Linked DNA regions of Homo sapiens. The protein of the gene in region 1 interacts with the protein of each later gene in a pairwise test. Each region holds a gene or a part of one and is shown in the gene's direction. Other genes may lie near its edges.

What was found. The genes of interacting proteins can lie anywhere in the genome.
Region 2: the proteins of THAP4 (region 1) and TNFRSF10D interact in binary tests that used the Homo sapiens proteins (3 or more experiments, as listed by UniProt).
Region 3: the proteins of THAP4 (region 1) and SYP interact in binary tests that used the Homo sapiens proteins (3 or more experiments, as listed by UniProt).
Region 4: the proteins of THAP4 (region 1) and RMDN2 interact in binary tests that used the Homo sapiens proteins (3 or more experiments, as listed by UniProt).

Annotation. Positions count from the first base shown.
Region 1 is NC_000002.12:241,627,038-241,630,771, reverse strand, and holds part of THAP4 (peroxynitrite isomerase THAP4), read left to right. Parts: intron 1-3,734. UniProt on the Homo sapiens protein: Heme-binding protein able to scavenge peroxynitrite and to protect free L-tyrosine against peroxynitrite-mediated nitration, by acting as a peroxynitrite isomerase that converts peroxynitrite to nitrate.
Region 2 is NC_000008.11:23,143,346-23,147,079, reverse strand, and holds part of TNFRSF10D (tumor necrosis factor receptor superfamily member 10D precursor), read left to right. Parts: intron 1-7; coding exon 8-119; intron 120-1,158; coding exon 1,159-1,412; intron 1,413-1,990; coding exon 1,991-2,022; intron 2,023-2,444; coding exon 2,445-2,630; intron 2,631-3,734. UniProt on the Homo sapiens protein: Receptor for the cytotoxic ligand TRAIL. Contains a truncated death domain and hence is not capable of inducing apoptosis but protects against TRAIL-mediated apoptosis. Reports are contradictory with regards to its ability to induce the NF-kappa-B pathway.
Region 3 is NC_000023.11:49,193,512-49,197,245, reverse strand, and holds part of SYP (synaptophysin), read left to right. Parts: intron 1-2,884; coding exon 2,885-3,080; intron 3,081-3,734.
Region 4 is NC_000002.12:37,970,235-37,973,968, forward strand, and holds part of RMDN2 (regulator of microtubule dynamics protein 2), read left to right. Parts: intron 1-3,734.

The DNA of each region.
Region 1 (3,734 bases):
GTTTTGCTCTTGTTGCCCAGGCTGGAGTGCAATGGTGCAATCTTGGCTCACCGCAACCTCCACCTCCCGGGTTCAAGCAATTCTCTTGCCTCAGCCTCCCGAGTAGCTGGGATCACAGGCATGCGCCACCACACCCAGCTAATTTTGTATTTTTAGTAGAGACAGTGGTTTCTCCATGTTGGTCAGGCTGGTCTCGAACTCCCGACCTCAGGTGATCCACCCGCCTCGGCCTCCCAGCTTCTCTTGGAATTTTAAAGCTGTTTGTAGTTATCAGAGCTAATGCTGCTTTAGACAGCTTCTCTCTGTTCCTCTTGGTTAAACTTCCTGAAGTTTGTCTCCATTACAGGTTTTTGCAAACAGCCAGCCCTTCGTGTCTCTGAGTTGTTGTTTATGCTGGTTAATCCTTACATCTTTTTGCTTTGTTGGGTTTTTTCTTGTAGTTCTGGTTCCTGGCGTGTTCCTTAACCCTGCAATGGAGGCTGTGGCTCTGCTGTTCCTTGGGCTGCGTGCCATGGATCTGCCTCTCTCTGCTTTTGTTGCTGTTCATTTCTGAGTCGTTTGTAATTCCAGCCTCGATGCCCCCTTTAACCCTGTGGTTATTTAAAAGGGTGTTGACAGATTTTTCAGTGCACACAGATTGGGCGAGGGGAGCAAATTTTTTTGTAGTTACTTTAAAATTTGATTGCATTAAGGTCTAATGGTAAGGACTGAAGGAGTTCTGCTTTTTGGAATCCTTTGAGACTTCACTGTGGCTAACACAGTCCCTTTTTGTGACTGTTGCAGTGTAGTGCTAGAAGAATGTATCCTCACCACTCCTTGGTTATATTGTTCCCGCCTGAAGCTGGGCACTTGCTTACTTGTGTTAGTCAGCGGACCAGAGCGTTCCCTAGCTTCTTGTCAGGCTCTCGGTCTGCTGATTTCCAGGAAAGGTGAGGTAGACCTCCCCTGTGGTTCTGGAGGTGCCCGTTTCTGCTTGTATGTCCAAGTTTTGCTTTCTGCCTCAAGACCATGCTGTTTGATGCATAAGTTTTCCTGTTACCAACACAAGAAACTCCTTTTTGTCCCGTTTAACGTCTTATTTCTTCATTTCCTTATTTTCAACCTTTTCATCTTATTTTATAGTTATATTTTTAACTCAATCCAAAAGTCTTTTTGTAGAGTAATTTAGTCATTTACAATTGTGATTACTGATAAGTGGGAATTCGGGCCTACCTTTTTAATTTGTTAGGCTTCCTCACCGTTTTCTTATTATTCTTCTAGTGGATATGTTTCAATTTTTTCTTTTCTTTTTTTTTTTTTAAGAGACAGGGCTTTGCTCTGTCACCCAGGCTGGAGTGTGGTGGTCCTATCACAGCTCACTGCAGCCTTGACCTCCTGGGCTCAAGCCATCCTCCCACCTCAGCCTCTCGAGTAGCTGGGACTACAGGCACATACCACCACATCCGGCTAATTTTTAAAATTTTTTGTAGCAATAGGGTCTTACTATGTTGCCTGGGCTGGTCTTGAACCCTTGGCTTCAAGGGATCTTCCCGTCTCAGCCTCCCAAAGCTCTGGGTTTATAATTGTGAGCCACTGTGCCCAGCCCATCTTTCAGTTTTAAAAACAAACACGTGAGCCCCTCTTTGTGTAACTGTTGAGAGCTGATCGGTCCTGTGTGCCACCTTCCCTAGGTGGAGGCTGTATGTCATCTTAGTTCCGGTGCTTCTTATTCCCCCATCAAGCAACCATGATTATTAGATTGAAGTATACATTTTACTGGTTACTTTATTTACCATTGTTTGCTGTATCCAAGTTTCCCCTCCTTTTTGGCAGTATTTAATGACTTTTTTTTTTTTTTTTTTTTTTTGAGACAATCTCAGACTGGAGTGCAGTGGCATGATCTCGTCTTACTGCGGCCACGACCCCCTGGGCTCCAGCGATCCTCTCACCTGAGCCTCCTGAGTAGCTGGGACTACAGGCATGTGCCATCATGCCCGGCTAATTTTTTGTGTGTTTTTTTGTTTTTTTGTTTTTTTTGTTTTTTGTTTTTTTTTTTGTAGAGATGGGGTTTTGCCATGTTGGCCAGGTAAGCCACCGCACCCAGCCATGACTTTAAAAAAAAAAAATCCTATTCCAGTACAGTTTTGAGGGGGGCGCTGGTGACTGTTGTGGCAGTCCCAGGGTAGATGGCGATGGCTCAGACTTTAGGGAGGAAGTGGCGGTGGTAGCAATGCTGGAGTACTGGCTGGGTTCAGGGGGTTGAGAGGCAAAAGATCAGCAGGCCAGCTACAGGGATTAGGCTTGAGCACCTGGAGGATGCTAAGTGGGAGAGGCTTTTGGGGAGGAGCAGGAGATGGGGGTGAGGAACGGAGTTTGAGATGCTCTTGGGTGCTGAGGCCAGAGTTTGAACAGGCAGTCTGAGGCCAGCAGCTGGCCTCTGGGATTTGGGCATGTGAGTGTGGGGGTGGAGGGCAGAGGTGTTTGAAGCCTTGGGGGGTCGAGTGTGGTTCTAGGCTGGGCTTCAGTGCCCGGCCCAGGAGCAGGCCTCGCTGAGAGAGGGGCAGCCGAGGCGGGTCCAGGGGAAGGCTGAGGGGTTGTTCAGGAAAGAAGGGTGACTTGCTGTGCTGGGTGCTACTCTGACCAGAATGGAGAGAAGGGGGCTGGATGTGCCCCAGGATAGTGGAGAGAAGGGGGTTGGATGTGCTCCCAGGGTCGCTGGTTACTGGAATCTCACTGGAGAGGCTGGTGGAGCTGGGCGGAGAGGGGGCCAGTGATGAGGGGTCAGGGCCAGGTTTGGCCGTGAAGTGGAGTGAGGCAAGTAGACAGGAGCCAGAGGGAGTGTGGCTCCAAAGAGAGTGTGTCAGTGGGGAGGGCTGTGAAGGGCCAGGCTCTGGAGAGCAAGGGACAGGTGCAGGCACCACCCTGCATGCCTTGTGCCCCTCCAAAGGTGAGGCCAGGCCACGGCTGGGCATGCGGTGTGGGCACAGGGGTGGCAGGAGCGAGGGTGTGGTGGGGAGAGGACATCCTCTCCCTGGGGTTGCAGTCTGTCACGCCGGCGTCGCAGGCCCTGGGGTCTGCACTCTGTGGTTCTTGCTGTCCGTGTGGATTTGTTCTTCAGTGACAGACTCTTTGGGTCATTCTTTAGGGATTTATGTGGAAAGCGCCGCACACTTGTCTATTCAGCTCGCTAGCCAGTGTCTGCTTTTGGGCAGGTTCCCCAAACTGAAGGATGCGGGCCAGTGGGCTTCAGAGGTGGGTTGAAGCCACGCTCCAGAGGCAGTGCCCGGTGGCGTTCTGTGGACGTAGTGTTCTTCTCCGCCAGCAGCGATTCCTTGAGGGTACATTGTTAGCACGTCTATGAACCACGTGTTCGCGGTCTTGCTTGCCCACTGAGTTATAAACGTTCTTGATACAGTAAGGATACCAACGCCTGTTAAATATTATTCACCTGTTTCCTAAGTTCAGCAATTTAACACTTGCTTCAAAATCTGTTTTCTTTTTATTCCTTTATGGATTCATTATCTACATATAATTCTTGAAATCTGGATTGTCAAAATCCAAGTACAAAACAAGTGAACCTTAATGTAAACTATGGACCCTATTTGTAGCAATGAATCAGTATTGGTTCGTAACTTGAGACACACATACCCACACTAATGCAAGATGTTAATCATAGGGGAACAGGGCAGGGGGTGAGAGGGTGAAGGAATTCTCTGTACTACCTGCTGGATTTTTCTGTCCTAAAAACAATCTGT
Region 2 (3,734 bases), on another chromosome or scaffold:
TTGTCAGGTCAAACAAATAAAAGTTCCTGTACCACGACCAGAGACACCGTGTGTCAGTGTGAAAAAGGAAGCTTCCAGGATAAAAACTCCCCTGAGATGTGCCGGACGTGTAGAACAGGGTAAGACAGCAGCCAGGGGCTCCCAACAGCTTTCAGGAACCTGAAAAGACCTGATTCACCTGGTACCTCTATCTCTCCGCTGACCCCATGGATCCTCCAGGCCCGAGGCCTCCCTGAGCCTGTGGGGTTTCCTGAGCCTGCGTTGGCCCCTCCTGGTCCATCTGCCTGTCCCCACCCCTACCCCCTGCAGCAGCCCCTTCCCATACCCTCCCCAGCAGGAGTCCCTTTGTCCAGGCTGAATTGTTCACTGGGCACAGGAGGTGACTTTCTAGGTCCCTTGAACCTTTTCAGGCAACCTAGGAAATGTAATTTCCTTTTGAAATCAGAAGAAAACACTTGAATCCAGCCTGGCTTGTATTTTTCCTTACTCTAAGTTGGTTTAAAAAATGTAATTTTTAATATTTTTTATGTGGGCAGGGACCCATAAAGACAAAAGTGTCCGTAGCCCACAAAAGTCATAATAAGGCCATGGGTGGAGCTCCCTTAAGTTCCCATGAGGACCTGAGCCCACCCAGCCGGCCTCACCCCTGGCCCCCGATTTCTCACTAAGTCCTTCTTTATCCTATTTGGGTTTTAGGGGCAAAGAGTAACTTGCTCTTCTCTGGCCCTCCAGTGTTTGCTGTGGTTGGGAGGAACCAGCGGCAGACAGGGTGGGGCGAGGACTCACTTGTACTGTGTGTTAACTGGAGGAAGGGGCTCAGCTTGTGGCCACAGGGGCTTGTGATCTTCCCCTGGAGTGCGGCTCCTCCTAACGCAGGCCTCCCCTGCAGCCCAGGGAAGCTCAGTGTGTGCCCAGCACAGAAGGCTCCTGGATCTACAGCTCTGACCCCAGAGCAGGGAGGCCGAGGGGCTGAAGTGTGCATGCTCAGACCCTTCCCCAGCCTCAAGAAGGGAGCACAGGGGGACCCACTGCTGACACGAGGAGCCTGTCCTCCTGACGCCTTCTCAGGGACTTTGGGCAGGGAGGGTGGCTCCTCTTTCATCCCACCTGGCCAGCTTTCCATCAAGAGTCCCTGTCTCCCTCTCTGTGTGTACCCAGGTGTCCCAGAGGGATGGTCAAGGTCAGTAATTGTACGCCCCGGAGTGACATCAAGTGCAAAAATGAATCAGCTGCCAGTTCCACTGGGAAAACCCCAGCAGCGGAGGAGACAGTGACCACCATCCTGGGGATGCTTGCCTCTCCCTATCACTACCTTATCATCATAGTGGTTTTAGTCATCATTTTAGCTGTGGTTGTGGTTGGCTTTTCATGTCGGAAGAAATTCATTTCTTACCTCAAAGGCATCTGCTCAGGTAGGTGCTGGCTGAGGGTGGGAGCGCTGGGCACTGTCTGCCCTGCCCTCTCCCACTCCGTTCCCACAGACAGTAATCCCCATCCCTGCCCCTGGTCCAAGCGTCTCCAGCCTGGCTTGGTCTTCCTTCTTGTGATCGCCCCATCCCCACGTCCTGTGTATCCCCAAGGACCCTGGTCTCATCAGTCCCTCTCTCAGGGCTGGGGGACCCCTCATCTCCCGGAGCCAACTCCAGGAGGGCAGGGCCAGTTCCTCCTATCTTCAGGCCCAGCCAGGCAGGGGGCAGTCAGCTCCTCAACTGGGTGACAAGGGTCAGGATGAGAAGTGGTCGTGGGATTTATTCAGCCTTGGTCAGAGCAGAACACAGAGATTTTCCACGTGTTGGTTTTTACTCTAGTTCCCCTTCTCATCCCCCTTCCTCAGGGTGTCCCCTAATTGCAAGGCCCCATTCTGTCCCCAGCCCCAGGGCTCCTTGTCCAGTGTCCCAGCCCCCAGCCAGCCCTGCGCCCCACTGTCCTCTGGGAGGGAGGTGCTGCATGGGCCCCTCCCCGCCTGCTCAGGAGACTGCTTCTTTTCCAGGTGGTGGAGGAGGTCCCGAACGTGTGCACAGAGTGAGTTGGTTTCTCCAGAAACTGGGGGCTTCGTGGGTTCAGGAACTGCTTCCCATCCACTGCCGAGCCTGGGTGGGCACAATCCCTTGTCCTCATGGCTGCCCTGACTCTCTGACATGGCCTGGGGGATCTGGGCTGACTGTGGGGGACACACGGCCATTTTGAGCAGCACACAGACCAGCAGGCCGTGCTGCAGCCCTGTCCTTCCTGCAGCCTCGGTGACACCATCACTCCACAGCTGGCCCCATGGGGATGGGGTGACCACCTGACCCACCTCAGCATGGGGTCCTGGATGTGCTGAGCCTCAGCTGCCTGGGGTGACCTCATTGGAAGGGGTTGGGGATGGCAGGTCCAGCTGTGTACTGGGGACCCTGAAGCTGAGCCCGGGGTGTGGACTTGAGTGGGCTCTTTGTCTTCCCAAGGTCCTTTTCCGGCGGCGTTCATGTCCTTCACGAGTTCCTGGGGCGGAGGACAATGCCCGCAACGAGACCCTGAGTAACAGATACTTGCAGCCCACCCAGGTCTCTGAGCAGGAAATCCAAGGTCAGGAGCTGGCAGAGCTAACAGGTGTGACTGTAGAGTTGCCAGAGGAGCCACAGCGTCTGCTGGTGAGTTGAGGAGGGACTGTGCCCTGCCTGGCGTGCAGCCTGCACAGGACTTTGTAGACAGTGGGACATGGCAGTGCCTCCTCTTTCCTGGCCCAAGGGGACATGGAGCCTTTGGGAGACAGGGGACTGCAGGGGACGGAGCAGCTGCACTGAGGTGGTGACCGTGCCAGTCTGCAGGACATCTGCTTCTTACTCCCTGTCCTGTCCTTGCTGTGTCCCCAGAGCCTGGATCTCCACAGGCATAGAGTGGGTGTCACAGGGTTCACTGAGGACTGAATAAGGCTGCACAGTCTCCATCGTGTGCTCCTAACAGAAGTCAGGGAGCCCTTGCTTGAAACAGCGGAAGTTTTAAATGTTCTTCAAAATTCTTACTACATTGAACATATTTCACAGTAAATCTTTGTCCAGATTTCTGATCAAGTATGTAAGGAGGCTTCTGGGAAGAAGTAGGATTTCTGAGTCAGTGTGTAGAAGTGCTTTTGTATTACAGAAACACACACATCCAGTTATTCACATCGATTCACTAGTTTTGATATGACATTGAGTAGGTGTGAAATCTGGACACACATTTGTTTTTTTTTAAGTTCTTTCCTTCAGGATAAAATAAGATGATCCTACCTAATTTTTTGTGGACTTTTAAAGAATGATTTGGTTTGTAGCATACACCAGTGGAACGTAGGTGCCATTTCTTTTGTGATGCTGTGTGAAGTGAGGAATTCCCTGAATTGTTGTGAGTCACTGTCTCCTTCCTCCACGCCTGTTTAGGAACTGATTCTCCTATTTTTCTCTGCTTTTGGCTCCTCTTTGATCACTTGTCAAATACTTACCTAGACAAGGTTCACTTTCCACCCATTTTCTTCCTTTCCTATAACTATACCCCATTTTTTTTAATGAAGGGAAGTATAAAAAGGTAAGGAAATAAACAAAAAATATCAACAATTACTCCACGCTGCTGAATCGCATTGCACCTTTGTTTTGTAATTTGTAGAGATCTGATCTTGCTATGTTGCCCAGGCTGGTCTCAAACTCCTGGCCTCAAGTCATCCTCTCACCTTGGCCTCCCAAAGTGGTGGGATTACAGGCATAAGCCACTGCACCTGGCCG
Region 3 (3,734 bases), on another chromosome or scaffold:
TTTGAGAGGCCGAGGTGGGCGGATCACCTGAGGTCAGGAGTTCGAGACCAGCCTGACCAACATGGAGAAACCCCGTCTCTACTAAAAATACAAAATTAGCCAGGCGTGGTCATGCATGCCTGTAATCCCGGCTACTCAGGAGGCTGAGGCAGGAGAATCACTTGAACCTGGGAGCCGAAATCGCGCCATTGCACTCCAGCCTGGGCAACAAGAGCGAAACTCCATCTCCAAAAAAAAAAAAACCAGACCCAACTCCCTACCTTCATGGAGCCTACATTATAACAAATAAATTAACAAAGAGGATAATAGCAGACTGAGAGAAACTCGAGGAGATCCTCATGTAGGGTTTTATGGTAGAGAATAGAATAATGAGGGGTGCTGCTTAGATATAGGGAAAAATTAAACCCAATTAAACAATTCTGACATTTATTGAGCTCACACTGTGTGCCGGGCAATACACTGGGTGCTAGGTGCACAAGAATGAGCACGGCTGGCATGGGCACTACCCTCACAATGATGTTTACCTCCTGCAGGGTGGGATGACAGAGACCCACAGACACAATCCCCGCACAGGTTTCTGAGACTCCCCCACTATTTGGCCAAATCACATAACCACTCTGGGTCTCAATTTCCTCATCTGTAAAAAGGAATACTAATAATATCTACCTCACAGGGTCGTGGTTAGCATTCAATGAGTTAATATTCATCAGGTGCTTAGCACAGTGCCTGGCACACAATAAGTGCTCCATCAGTGTCTGTTCAATAAGTAAAATAAATTTAAGGGACTCAGGAAAGAGGACAGGGGTTGAGTTGGAAACTGGGGGTCTTCGAGTACTGAGGGTAAATGTAGGCTCAAGTGATCACCCAGTGGGGAGATGGAAGAGTGAAAGTAGAAGAAAACCTAGCACAGGCCCTGAGCAATGATGGAAAAGAGAGGAGATGCCGGGAAAGTGTGGCCTGAGAGGCAGAGGGGCAGCCAGGTATCCATGGGTCCACAAAGGCAAGGGAGAAAAGAGTCTGGGGAAGGAGGGGGAGCTGGCAGCAAGGGACACTGCTTAGAGCCAGTCCTTTGGGGATCCACAAGACCACAACCATCCCCTGTGCCCCCTCCCCACGCCTCCCATGTCTAGAACTTTGGGTCCTAAGGCTCTAGCCCACAAGTCCCCTAGAAAAACAGTCTTGGCCCTGGGTCCCCCTGAGCAAAATCCCTCCCAAACTGCCCTAATACCCAAGGACCTCTCATTCCCTCTTAGGGACCCCCTCTCCTGACCCAGCCCACTAGAAACAGAAACTCAAACCCAGATGCAACTCCTAGCTCCATCATTTAGGAGCTGTACAACCTTGGGCAAGTAATAACCTTGCTAAGCCTCTGTTTATTCATCTGTAAAAAGGGTCTAATAATGCCTTCTTTAGAGAATTGCTGGAGGCTGTCATTAATGAGACATTTATGTAAACTGCTTAGTAGGTGACTAATAAGTGCAAGCCTCTTCCCTCAGGGCCTTTGCTACACAAAGGCATTGGCACCATTTGCTCAGTCTCAGGATCCTGGCCTCCAATCTGAGACTGTGCTCCAGAACTTCTCCCACAGACATTTTCTCTCTACAACCCCCACCTCTCCTCCATCACACCACAGGAAAGGCCTTAGTCCCAGGACACCTCCCCTCTTCCCTCACATACACACACCCTGTTCCAAGATCCCTTTACCCTCCTTTCTTTCTGTCTGTCTTTTCCTGTTATCTAGTCGCTGGCCTCTCCTCTGCTATGCATACATTTTTTTCTCTCGGGGACCTGAACTGGGGTGGGGGAGAAAAGTCAACATGAGATAGGGAGAAAACAAGGTTCAGATCTCAACTCTGACATTCCCTTGCCAGCTGTGTGACTTTAGGCAAGTTAATGCACTTCCCTGAGCCTCTGTTTCCGCCTCTGTACATTTCATTTGATAAACATTTCTTGAGTGTCTGCTAGGTGCCAGCACTGTTCCAGGGCCTGGAGATAAACGGAGGTGAAAACACAGGAAAAAGCCCTGCCCTCTTGTAGTTACAGCAAAAACCAAGATTAAAAAAAAAAAAAATACCTGGTATGTCAGATGGGTACCACTACTATCGAGAAAAGTGGAGCAAGGAAGCCAGGCTAAGAAGTGCTGGTTGAGAGAATGTTTCAATTTAATTTTAAGTAGGGAGATCAGGGAAGGTCTCAATGAGAAGGTGACAGTTGAGCAAAGCTTCAAGGAGATGAGGGAGGCCGGGCGCAGTGGCTCACGCCTGTAATCCCAGCACTCTGGGAGGCCAAGGCGGGCAGATCACAAGGTCAAGAGATCAAGACTATCCTGGCCAACACGGTGAAACCCCGTCTCTATTAAAAGTACAAAAATTAGCTGGGCGTAGCGGCGCATGCCTGTAATCCCAGCTACTCAGGAGGCTGAGGCAGGAGAATCGCTTGAACCCGGGAGGCAGAGGTTGCAGTGAGCCGGGATTGTGCCACCGCACTCCAGCCTGGTGACAGAGCAAGACTCCATCTCAAAAAAAAAAAAAAAAAAAAAAAGGAGATGAGGGAGTAAGACCCGAAGCTATCTAGGGGAAAAGCATTCCTGGCAAAGGGAACAGCCAGTACAAACAAAGATCCTAGGGAGGGAGGATGCCTGGCAAGTTCTAGAAATAATCAAGAGGCCAGAGTGCTTGGGTTGGAGTGAGGGATGAATAACACCTATCTCACCAGGATGTTTTGAGCAATCAGTGAAATGTGACTGGTACATAGTAGGTGCTCGATGAATGGTTATTTCCTCCTCTTCCTGGGGCCTTGTCAGAAATGGGGGGACCCATGATTGGGCTGGAGGGTTGAGGGTGTTCTGAGGGGCTGGGCCACACCTGCCCACCTCTGTTTGCAGGCTGCACCAAGTGTACTTTGATGCACCCACCTGCCGAGGGGGCACCACCAAGGTCTTCTTAGTTGGGGACTACTCCTCGTCAGCCGAATTCTTTGTCACCGTGGCCGTGTTTGCCTTCCTCTACTCCATGGGGGCTCTGGCCACCTACATCTTCCTGCAGAACAAGTACCGAGAGAATAACAAAGGGCCCATGCTGGTGAGTCCCCACAGCCACTTGCATGTAGGGACCATGGGGACACGGAACCCCAGGGACACAGCCATGCTCACAGACCACACCAAATCCCAGACAGGCCCACATGCAAACAGCCACCATAACAGCCACACATATAGTTGCTGCTGCTATTAATCCACACCAGGCATCCGGGACACAGAGTCATAGAGTCACGGAGACATACAGCCTATGCAGAATCCCAGACAGGCCCACACCTGAGAACCTTCCCACTCTCACACAACTACACAGCCTAGATCAAAGGAAGAGGCCCACAGAGGTTCGCTGTGACAGTCATGCCTGTCATCATGCCACACAGACACACTGATTCCTACACCACTGTACTCACATACCCTCAGCCTAGACACAAAATGACAAAAATTCCCACATGCAGACAAAAGTAGAAAGACACATTACTTTCCACAGATTCGGAAATCATCCCAGAGTTCCCCTCCCCCCAACACCCACAGCCACATATCACAATCACACTCCCACATCCTCTGTGTCATGTACACACACAAGCTCAAGCTGGGAGGGCCACCTTCAGGTGAAAGTGTTGTGGGCTTGAGAGCTGAAAAGGCAGGGGAGAGACAGGCCTCTTCTGGGGGACCTGTGATCCGAGGAGGCCCCAGGGCCTAGCGT
Region 4 (3,734 bases), about 200 Mb from region 1:
AGGCTTTGGTATTTCTTTTGTCCTGAAGTGGTGTTGGAATTTATTGGAAAAAAAAATTTTTTTGGTAATGACTGAATTGATCAGATAGGTCTCATCTGTTGCGCCAGAGAAATTGTCTAATGTCAAACTGTGCTTGTAATTTCTAGTATAATCTCAATTTGGTTGTAATACATAATTTTATATTTGTTGCAATAGCTTGATTGATATTTTATTGAGGATTTTTGCATTTATGTTTATGTGTAAGATTGGCCTATAATTTTTATTTTTTGTAATATTCATGTTTGGTTTTTGTGTCAGTTATATTAGTTTTATAAAATAAACCTGAGGGGCATTCCATCTTTAGTAATTCTTTAGAAGAATTTGAATAAGCCTAATTATTTGGATATATGGCAGATTTCACAATAAAACTATTCTATGTGTGCATGGGAGAGACAGAATTAGAGCAAGAGATAGAGAGCAAGTTGCAGTAGATACATAATTCTGATGTAATTCATTTAATGGCTATAGCAACATTTGAGTTTTTGTTCTTATAAAGAATAACATAAAGATAATAGCTTTATACCTTTATAAAAGCTGTATATTATTTGTTACCATAAAGCTCCATCTTTTAAATTACATAATTTGGTGGTTTTTATTTGCAGAGTTGCCCATTTTTAAATTGAATTATTTGTCTTTTTATTGTCGAATTGTTAAGAGTTTTATATATATTTTGTATACAAGTCTCTTATCAGATATATGATTCATAACATATTTTCTTCTATTCTGTGGGTTTTTTCACTTTTTTAATGGTATCTTTTGAAGCACCTAAGTTTTTCATTTTGATAAAGTCTAATTTATTCATTTTTTTCTTTTGTCACTTGTGCTTATGATGTCATGTCTAAGAAACCATTGCTTAATCCAAGATCACAAATATTTGCTCCTATGTTTTCTTATGAGAAAGAAAACATATACATATAAAATGTTGTCAAACATTTTATAGTTCTAGCTCTTACACTTAGGTTTGATACATTTTGAGTTAATTTTTATATATGATAGGAAGTGAGAGTTCCTTTTTTGCATTTGCTTATCCATTTGTTCTAGCACTATTTGTTGAAGAGTATTGTTTCCTCCGCTAAACTGTCTTGGCACTCTTATCAAAATAAACTGATCATAATTTTAAGAAATTATTTCTGGACGCTTAATTTTGAATAGATGATCCATAATGTCTATTTCATATGTCTTACCCCAAGGACTAAAATATATTCGTCTGTATTTTGTACTAGATTTTTAAAATATATAACATTTTCTTAAACTATCCAGTTATGTTTTTTAAAAATATAAGGTAGAGTTTCAATTTCATCTTTTTCCATAGAGATAACAATTTTTCCCATCTGAATGCCTGAATTTCCTACTGATCTTACATGCCAACTCTCCCATGTACCACATTTTCATATGCATGTGGGTCTGTTTCTAGGCTCTGTTCTATCATTCACTCATCTATTGCTGTACCAATACCACACTGTCTTTAATTATTATAGCTTCATAGTAGGTCCTAAAATCTGGTGGGGTAAGTCTTCTCTCCTTGCTCCCTTTAAGAGTGCTTTGGCTGTCCTGGGCTCTTTGCTTTTTCATATAACTTTTAGAATCATCTTATTTAATTCTACAAAAATTCCTATTAGGCTTATAAAGTTTGAATTGCATTGAATCTATAGATTAACCTGGAAAGAATTCACATATTTATGATATTGGGTCTTCTAAACCATGAACGTGATATATTTCTCCATGAATTTAGGTCATTTTAGAAACATCTTTTAATATGCTTTTATAATTTTCTCCATTGAATTTTCACATATCTTTTGTTAGATTTATTCCTAGCCATTTGATATTCTCTGAGGTCACTGCAAATTGAATATTTTATTTAATTATGTTTGTAGTTTTTTGCTGATATGTAGAAATTAAACTGACTTTCATATGTTAATATTATATTCAGCCAATTTGCTATACTCTCCTATTAATCAAAATTTGTAGAATTTTTATTTTTATGTAAATAATCATAACATCTGCAATAATAAGAAGATTACATTTGAACAAAGATATGAAATATGCAAAGAAATAAACTATATGAATATCTGGAGAAGAACATACCAGGCAGAAGAAAGAAAAAATACAAAGGGTTTAAAGCAGGAACATGACTGATATGTTCAAGGAATATCAAGGAAGTTAGAGTTTCTGGAATGCTGTGAGCAAGCAGGAAAGTGATAGAAGATAAGACCAGAGGTATTGGCCAGATTATGTTAGGCCTTGTAGACCCCTGAAAGGACTTAGGTTTTCACTCTGACTTGGACATCTGATGGAGGGTTTTGAGCAAAGGAGTGACGTGATCTGAGTTATTCTTGCTACTCTGTTGAGAATAGAATATAAGGGTCAAGGACTAAAGCAAAGAGGTGTGATAAGGGGTCATTGCAGTAATCCAGATGAGATGATGGAGGCTTAGACCAAGGTGGTAGTGGGGAGAGGTGGGGAGAAGTGGCTAGATTCTGGATGTATTTTGACGATAGAACCAGCAGGATTTGCTAACAGACTGGGTATTGCTTAAGAGAAAGAAAAAAGCATCAAGGATGATTCCAAGTTTTTTGGTTTGAGCAATTGGAAGAGTAGAGTTTCCGTTAGTAAAGAATGTTATTGAAGAAGTGGGAGATCAGTTCATACAGTATCTTCTTTGTAAGGCATATGAAAGAAATTTAAGAACTTGCTTTGTTAGTTTTTTTGTTTGTTTCTATCTAACGGGAGCTGCAAGTTGTGAAGCTGATTGCATTGCATGCTAGAAAATGAAGAACATTTGTGTCCTTTGTAGCAAAGGTATAGCTATCTAAAATTTGTGTGTTTTTTATATTGACTTCATTCACATTTGGCCTTTGTCTTTTTTCACTATTTCTAATTTATTCTCTTATATGTTATATATCCTTGTATACCTCCTTAAAACCTTTTTAGAACAGGCAGAGTCTGAATTAATAAAAATAAGTTGTTTGTATTGTTTGCTGGCAAAAATGAAATGTAGGCAATAGTATTAATTTTTAAAAACCACGTTAAAGTTTAAACTTAGATCATCTTGAACTATAAATATGTGTTTTTGTGAGTTTACACACACAGTTTTGAGTGCCTGCTGAGTTCCTACAACTGTATCATCCATTCAGCAAATTCAGTGAATAGTGCTGTTCTAGGCACTTGATACATCAGTTAATGAACCTACCATCAGGGAGCTTGCATTCTCCTGGGGAGGATACTGACAAACAGCACATGTAGTAGATTAGTAAATTATACAGTATGTTAGAAGGTAATACATGCTATGGGAAAAGAAAAAAGCATTATGAGGGAGGTTAGAGATGAAGGGAATGTGGGGATTGAGGTATTAGAGTGGTCTGGATGGGCCACATTGAGAAAATGAAATTGGAGCAGAGACTTGAAGGAGGTGAGGGCGTGAGTTATGTGGCTGTCTAAGGAAACGGCGTTTCATTAAAGGGAACAGCAAGTGGAGGTTCCGAGGTAGGCACGTGATTAGAATATTGAAGGAGCAGCTAGGTGACCTGTGTGTATTTGAATAAGAAGAGTAGTAGGAAATGAGATCAAAGAGGTAACGAGATCGTGGGCAAATTGCGCAGGGACTTGTAGACTTCTGTTAGGACTGGAGCTTTTTCTGAGTGAAAGCACGTGCCACTGCAGAGTTTCAAGCATAAGAGGGGCATGATTTGACTTGC